2 separate regions of the Homo sapiens genome follow, and region 2 is linked to region 1. Evidence: fine-mapped expression QTL. A gene starts in region 1. The other region holds a variant in brackets. All regions are shown on one strand. Distances are from middle to middle.

The links.
Region 2: its variant is fine-mapped to the expression of ATXN7L1 in whole blood (INTERVAL, PIP above 0.99).

Annotation. Positions count from the first base shown.
Region 1 is chr7:105,874,957-105,877,766 of GRCh38, reverse strand. It overlaps ATXN7L1 (ataxin 7 like 1), which reads left to right and starts at 1,168. Exons shown (of 12, transcript NM_020725.2): 1 at 1,168-1,389; 2 at 1,887-1,955. The coding sequence starts at 1,209. RefSeq lists a silencer at 916-1,125.
Region 2 is chr7:105,674,071-105,676,880 of GRCh38, reverse strand. All of the region lies in intron 3 of ATXN7L1 (ataxin 7 like 1), which reads left to right. Among named protein-coding and RNA genes, the nearest start is that of EFCAB10, 94 kb to the right of the region's middle. RefSeq lists enhancers at 548-597, 472-972. The variant TA/A (reference allele first, on the strand shown) is at 1,723.

The sequences.
Region 1 (2,810 bases):
AAAAAATATGTCGCTTGTGGGGTGAGGGCGGTGTCCATATAGTTTAGATAATTCTAGTAAACAAAAGGATTTGTTAAAAAGAAGTAACAGAAGACTTTTTAAAGCCTTCTTTAAAGGGTGAAAATCTCAACTAAAGCACCCAACGTCCAAAATCCAGAGGAAATCTAGCGCTCCCTTTCTAGCTGGCTAGAGCAGTTAAGCCTGAAGTGAATTCTCCCAGGAATCAGATTCCTGGCCAAAGGTTGCCTGCGCAAACCCGGGCCACCCTCGTCTCACGGCAGGGAGCGCTGGAAACGGCTCAGGGGCTAGGCCCGTTAGCGTCGTCTTCCAAGAGCCGTAAATTCGCCCTCCCGCTCTGCTGACCCTGGAGCAAAGTCCATGCAGTGGTTCTCTGAGAGCCGGAGATACGCACCGCGCGGGGAACCCGGGGGTCCGGGGGCCCTAACTTTTGAGTTTTGCACGCCCCGCAGCCTGAGATGGGAAGGTAGCTCGTAGCGCTCCAAACTCACCTGCGTTTCAGAACGACATCTACCCACTGGTTTCAGCTCCTAGAGCAACAACTGCAGAATCTCCATGGTCCAAAGTCCTCCAGGAAAGAGAAGAAAGGGGTGACGGGGGTGAGGGCTGGGAGGCGAGGTCACCAGGGTCCCTTCCCTGGCTCGGGTGGGGGTGGGGGGCGCAACCCCTCACGGCTCCTCCCCACCAAGCCGTCGGGACCCCAGCGGGGGCGCCTCGCGTTGGGCGACAGGGACGCGGGGAGAGAGCGACAAGCTGGAAGCAAGGGCTGCCTGCAAAACTTTCGGTCCTCCAGCGGCAACTCTGCGGGAAAGACCACCCTTCCTTCGGCCCCGCGTCGGGCCTATCCCCGTGTGCCCCGACCCCTGCGCCCCAGGCTTGGGCGGCGCCGCTGCATCCCGGCTGCCGGGCGCGCTGCAGCCTTCGCTCTCCCGCACGCGGCGCTCGCCCGTCCGCGCTGCCCCTCCCCGGCAGGCGGGCGGCCCCGGCGGGCGGGCGGGCGCGGACTGCAGGTGCCTCTCTGCTGCCCCTGGCGGCCGCGGGCGCGCGAGCCCCACCGAGCCGGCTCCGGGAGCCCGAGCGCCCGCCCCTCCTCCGCTCCCTCTCCCCTCCTCCTCCGCCGCCCTCCTCCCATCCCGCCCTTCCTCCCTCCCTCCCCCTTTCAGAACACTCAATGTCGGAACGTTCCGAAGATGACGTCGGAGCGTTCTCGAATCCCGTGTCTCTCGGCTGCTGCTGCCGAAGGAACAGGGAAAAAGCAACAAGAAGGAAGAGCAATGGCGACACTGGATCGCAAAGTGCCCAGTCCGGAGGCGTTTCTGGGCAAACCCTGGTCCTCCTGGATCGACGCCGCCAAATTACACTGCTCCGACAGTAAGAACCCCACCACCTCCTCCTCCTTTTATTATCCTGTAACCTTTCCATTCACCTAGAGCCACTGGGAAAAAGTGTGTGTGTGAGAGAGAGAGTGGCCCCCGGTGTCCTCCATGCTTCTCCCTCTCTCTCTAAATAAATACACACAGAGACAGATCATCAATGCACAGGGAGAGGCCCGGCTGCCAGGGCTGTCTGTCTGTCTGTGCCCGGCTCCCCGTGGCAGCCCGCGGGGTGGGCTCGCAGCCCCACGGTGTTGTCCGTTTAAAAGGCTACTTTGTTGCTGCTTGCATAGTTTTTTGGGTACCTATCTGGGCCAGGTAGATGGAAACCCAGACTTGGGAGAAAATGTTGCATTGTCAATTTTTGAAAGAATTTCATATACAGTATTTATATCGATCTGTTTGCAAATAAACACTCTCCCTCCCCCCTTGACTTTGGCTTTTTTCCCCCCTTTTTTCCTTATTTTCTGTTTTCCTTTTCTTTTTCATCTGCAGATGTAGATTTAGAAGAGGCTGGAAAAGAGGGTGGAAAAAGCAGGGAGGTTATGAGGCTTAATAAAGAAGGTAAGTGGAGCTACTGGCATTTTAGTGTTAGCATGTGTGGCAGAATCTTCACAGGATTTCGAATATAATGTGAATTGTTCTGCTGGGTACAGAGTGACTAAGGCTTGTCAAAAATTGAGCACGCCCAGGTGACTACTGCTTCATGTTAACTTCTTTCAAAGTATAAATACAACTGGGGGGGGGGTAAAGGGGGGTGAGACTGTTGAAGGCAGAAGTTTACTGCACTTCAGTTGGACTCCACGTTTGAACCTTCTGATGCATATCTGCCATTCTCCTTGGGAGCATCATTGCCAAATGGTGGGGCGTTAAAATTTCTGAAATGAAGAGTGGAGTTCCCTTCACAAGCATCCCAGCCTTTCTCGTGGGTGAATGCACAACAGCTTAATGAACCCCACATGGTCAGTCATTCCAGCAGCTACTTCTCCACTCACCACTGAAAACCATTGTACATGGCAAACCTTTGCAGCAAGTTACATTTGGCCCACTTTGCATTTGGTCACAGATTGTTATGTGGCAAGCAGGGTTAGGAGCATCTGTATGTGCAGCCCCTCAGCAGTCATCATCTCTCTTTTCCCAGCATGGAAATACGGTACCTGAAATGGGACACACTGAGTAGATAGGTCATCCCAGACCAAGATATGCAAGAGAAGCCACAACCTGCTGCAATTGGGCATCAAACACATATGGTCGTCATAAATAAATCATATCCTGTTCTCATTTGCAAGCCTGCCGTATGTAACTCTGGCCTATGGGCTTCAAATGGAGCAACTCCGGGGGCCACTTGCTGCTAAGCAAATAGGTGGATTCATTTGAATTGTGATTCACTAACTGATGTCTTATAAACATAATTGGCTG
Region 2 (2,810 bases), 200 kb after region 1:
AGGTTTGTTTTGGGGGGTTTTTTGTTTTGTTTTGTTTTTTTGAGACAGAGTCTCACTCTGTCTCTCAGGCTGGAGTGCAGTGTCGCAATCTCGGTTCATTGCTACCTCCATCTCCAAGGTTCAAGCGATTCTCCTGCCTCGGCCTCCCGAGTAGCTGGGATTACAGACACATGCCACCACACCTGGCTAATTTTTGTATTTTTAGTAGAGACGGAGTTTTCCCATGTGGGCCAGGCTGGTCTTGAACTCCTGACCTCAAGTGGTCCACCCACCTCGGCCTCCCAAAGTGCCGGGATTACAGGTGTGAGCCACTATGCCCAGCCATTCTATCAGGTATTTTAAATATGGGGAATCCCAGCTCATGGATCTTCTCCCCAAGATCCTGGGGTCTGTGGCTCCCCCGTGCCCAGGTCCAGCTGTCTGCCATACCTGTCCCATCAGTGCTCTGGGGGCGATATCAGCTGTGTCATCCTAAGGTAGAATTCAACAGCTTATCTGCAAGCTGGTAGCCCCCAGTTTTCACCAAAGCTGTGGTGACTCCTGTGTTTAAACACATGTGACTTGTGCGGTGTGTGTTTGTGGTTTTGGAGGGGGCTACTCTGATGGAGAAGTTCAGTGCCATGCATGTGGAGTCCTTGTCAACCCCTCTGCTACCACTGGGCCCAGACAGTGGGGAGCAGATAGAGCCATAAAAGGCCTCATGTTATGAAGAGGATCGTGGTTCTGGCTCCAGGTGGAGTCCGGCAGACTCAGGTCCTTCGGGCAGCAGCTTGCCTTCTGAGGGCCGCGTCCGTTCTCCTCCACTCAGAGTGACAACTGTGGCAGCGAGCCAGGATCTGGAGAGTGCTGTCCCCTGAGCACAGGAAGCCCTCTGATGACAAAGGTCTAGCAGTGACAGCAACCTATTGTATCATCACTGTAATAACCCAGGGCTCATAGCCCAGTGTCTGGCACATGGTAGGTGCCAAGGAAATGCTAAGAAAAAAAAAAAAAAAAGAGTGAATGAATGAATGAAATAGCTTTCATTTTAACCCATATTTTTGTCTCCTTCCTGCATTTGTATTGGCACCTACTTTCTCTCTTCCACCTTTTCTGCTTAAGGATATGTTAGTGTTTTGTTGTTGTCTGTTTTTATCTTCTTGGATGAACTTAAACAGTTTTAAAAAAGACAGAGCCTATTAAGCAATGCATCTTATATCATTCTCTTTTTTCCTCATCATCATGTATTTATCAAGTGCTTTTTTTTTTCTTTTTTTTGAGATGGGGTCTCATTCTGTCACCAGGCTAGAGTGCAGTGGCGTGATCTCAGGTCACTGCAACCTCTGCCTCCCAGGTTCAAGCAATCCTCCCACCTCAACCTCCCGAGTAGCGGGGATTACAGGCATGCACCACCACGCCTGGCTAATTTTTCTGTGTTTTTAGTAGAGACGGGCTTTCACCATGTTGGCCAGGCTGGTCTCAAACTCCTGACCTCAAGTGATCCACCCACCTCGGCCTCCCAAAGTGCTGGGATTACAGGAGTGAACCACCGCACCCAGCCTCAAATATTTTTCTTTAAGTAGTGATTAGTCTCTACATACTATTTGTGCCATTTTGAATTTCCTTGTGAATGTGAGTGTACTATTTTGCATACATTTTCTTAGGTTGAGATAACTCTCTTACCTGTCTCCTACCAATTGCTTTATTATGGATTATTCAGGTTGCTTGTAGTATTTTTTTTTT[TA/A]ACTGTAGTAAACAGTGCTGAGAATATCTTTGAACTTTTTTTTTCCCTTTGGGATATTTCCTGGAGGCCTATTTTCCAAACTTACATTACCAGATTACCAGATGAAAGGCTATGGATGCTTTTTAGTTCCTGTTATTATCACCAGGTTGCTCTCCAGAAAAATGTAATCCCTTGAAAGTACCGCTGGCAAGGTGTACATGTGCTTGTCTCCCCACAGATTCTATTTCTGTAGTTTTTCCTTTTAGCTAGTCTAGGTGTCTTGTGAGGGCATCCCTGGGGGCTGATGGAAGTATTTCAGGGCCCTGGAAAGCCCCTGGGACTCCCCAGATCCTGCCCAATAGTGGTGATGCCAGAAATTTGCACCTTAGTATAAATGACAAATAGAAGAGGAGGAGGAAGGGGGAATGCCACCACAGGGGAAAAGTTAAAAAGGATCCTAAGTTACATGACTTCACAGCAGCTCTGGAATGGGAAATGCCCTTGTAAGAATCATCCCAGTTGCATTTCTAAAGCGTGGAGGGAAAGGAACATCCCAGGCAGGGTGGCATGGTAGAAAGGGCATTGGCTCTGGGGCCAGGCAAGCCTGGGCTTTCCTGCCAGCTGCTGAGGTCTGCGTGACCTTGGTCTTGTTTCACAATCTTGCTAAGCTTTAATTTCCCCCATCTGATATCTAAGAAGAAAAAAAAATAATAGTAATTTCCCCATCTATAACAAGGCAACTAACGGTATCATACCACATGGTAGGGTTATTGGGTAGATGAGCTGGTGAGTGAAAAGCAGCTTACACAGTGCCTGATATATAGTAGGTACTCAAGAAAGCCTGCTTTCCCTCCTAACTGAATGAATGTGCATGGGGTGACCAGATGACGAAGAAACCATCCCAGAGCCTAGGGATTTGGGAACTGAGCTGGTGTTGGTGTGAACAGTGTAGACCACAGGCCCACACTCATATTTGTCAAAAGAACTTAGTGCCCAAGATAGGTCATGTTGCCCAGCAGTGGGTAGGAGGTGAAGAGGGGTAAAGAAGACCTAGCATAACCTTTGCTTAAGGAACGCCTCCTCGGCTCCTCAGCCCTGCCATCTTTTA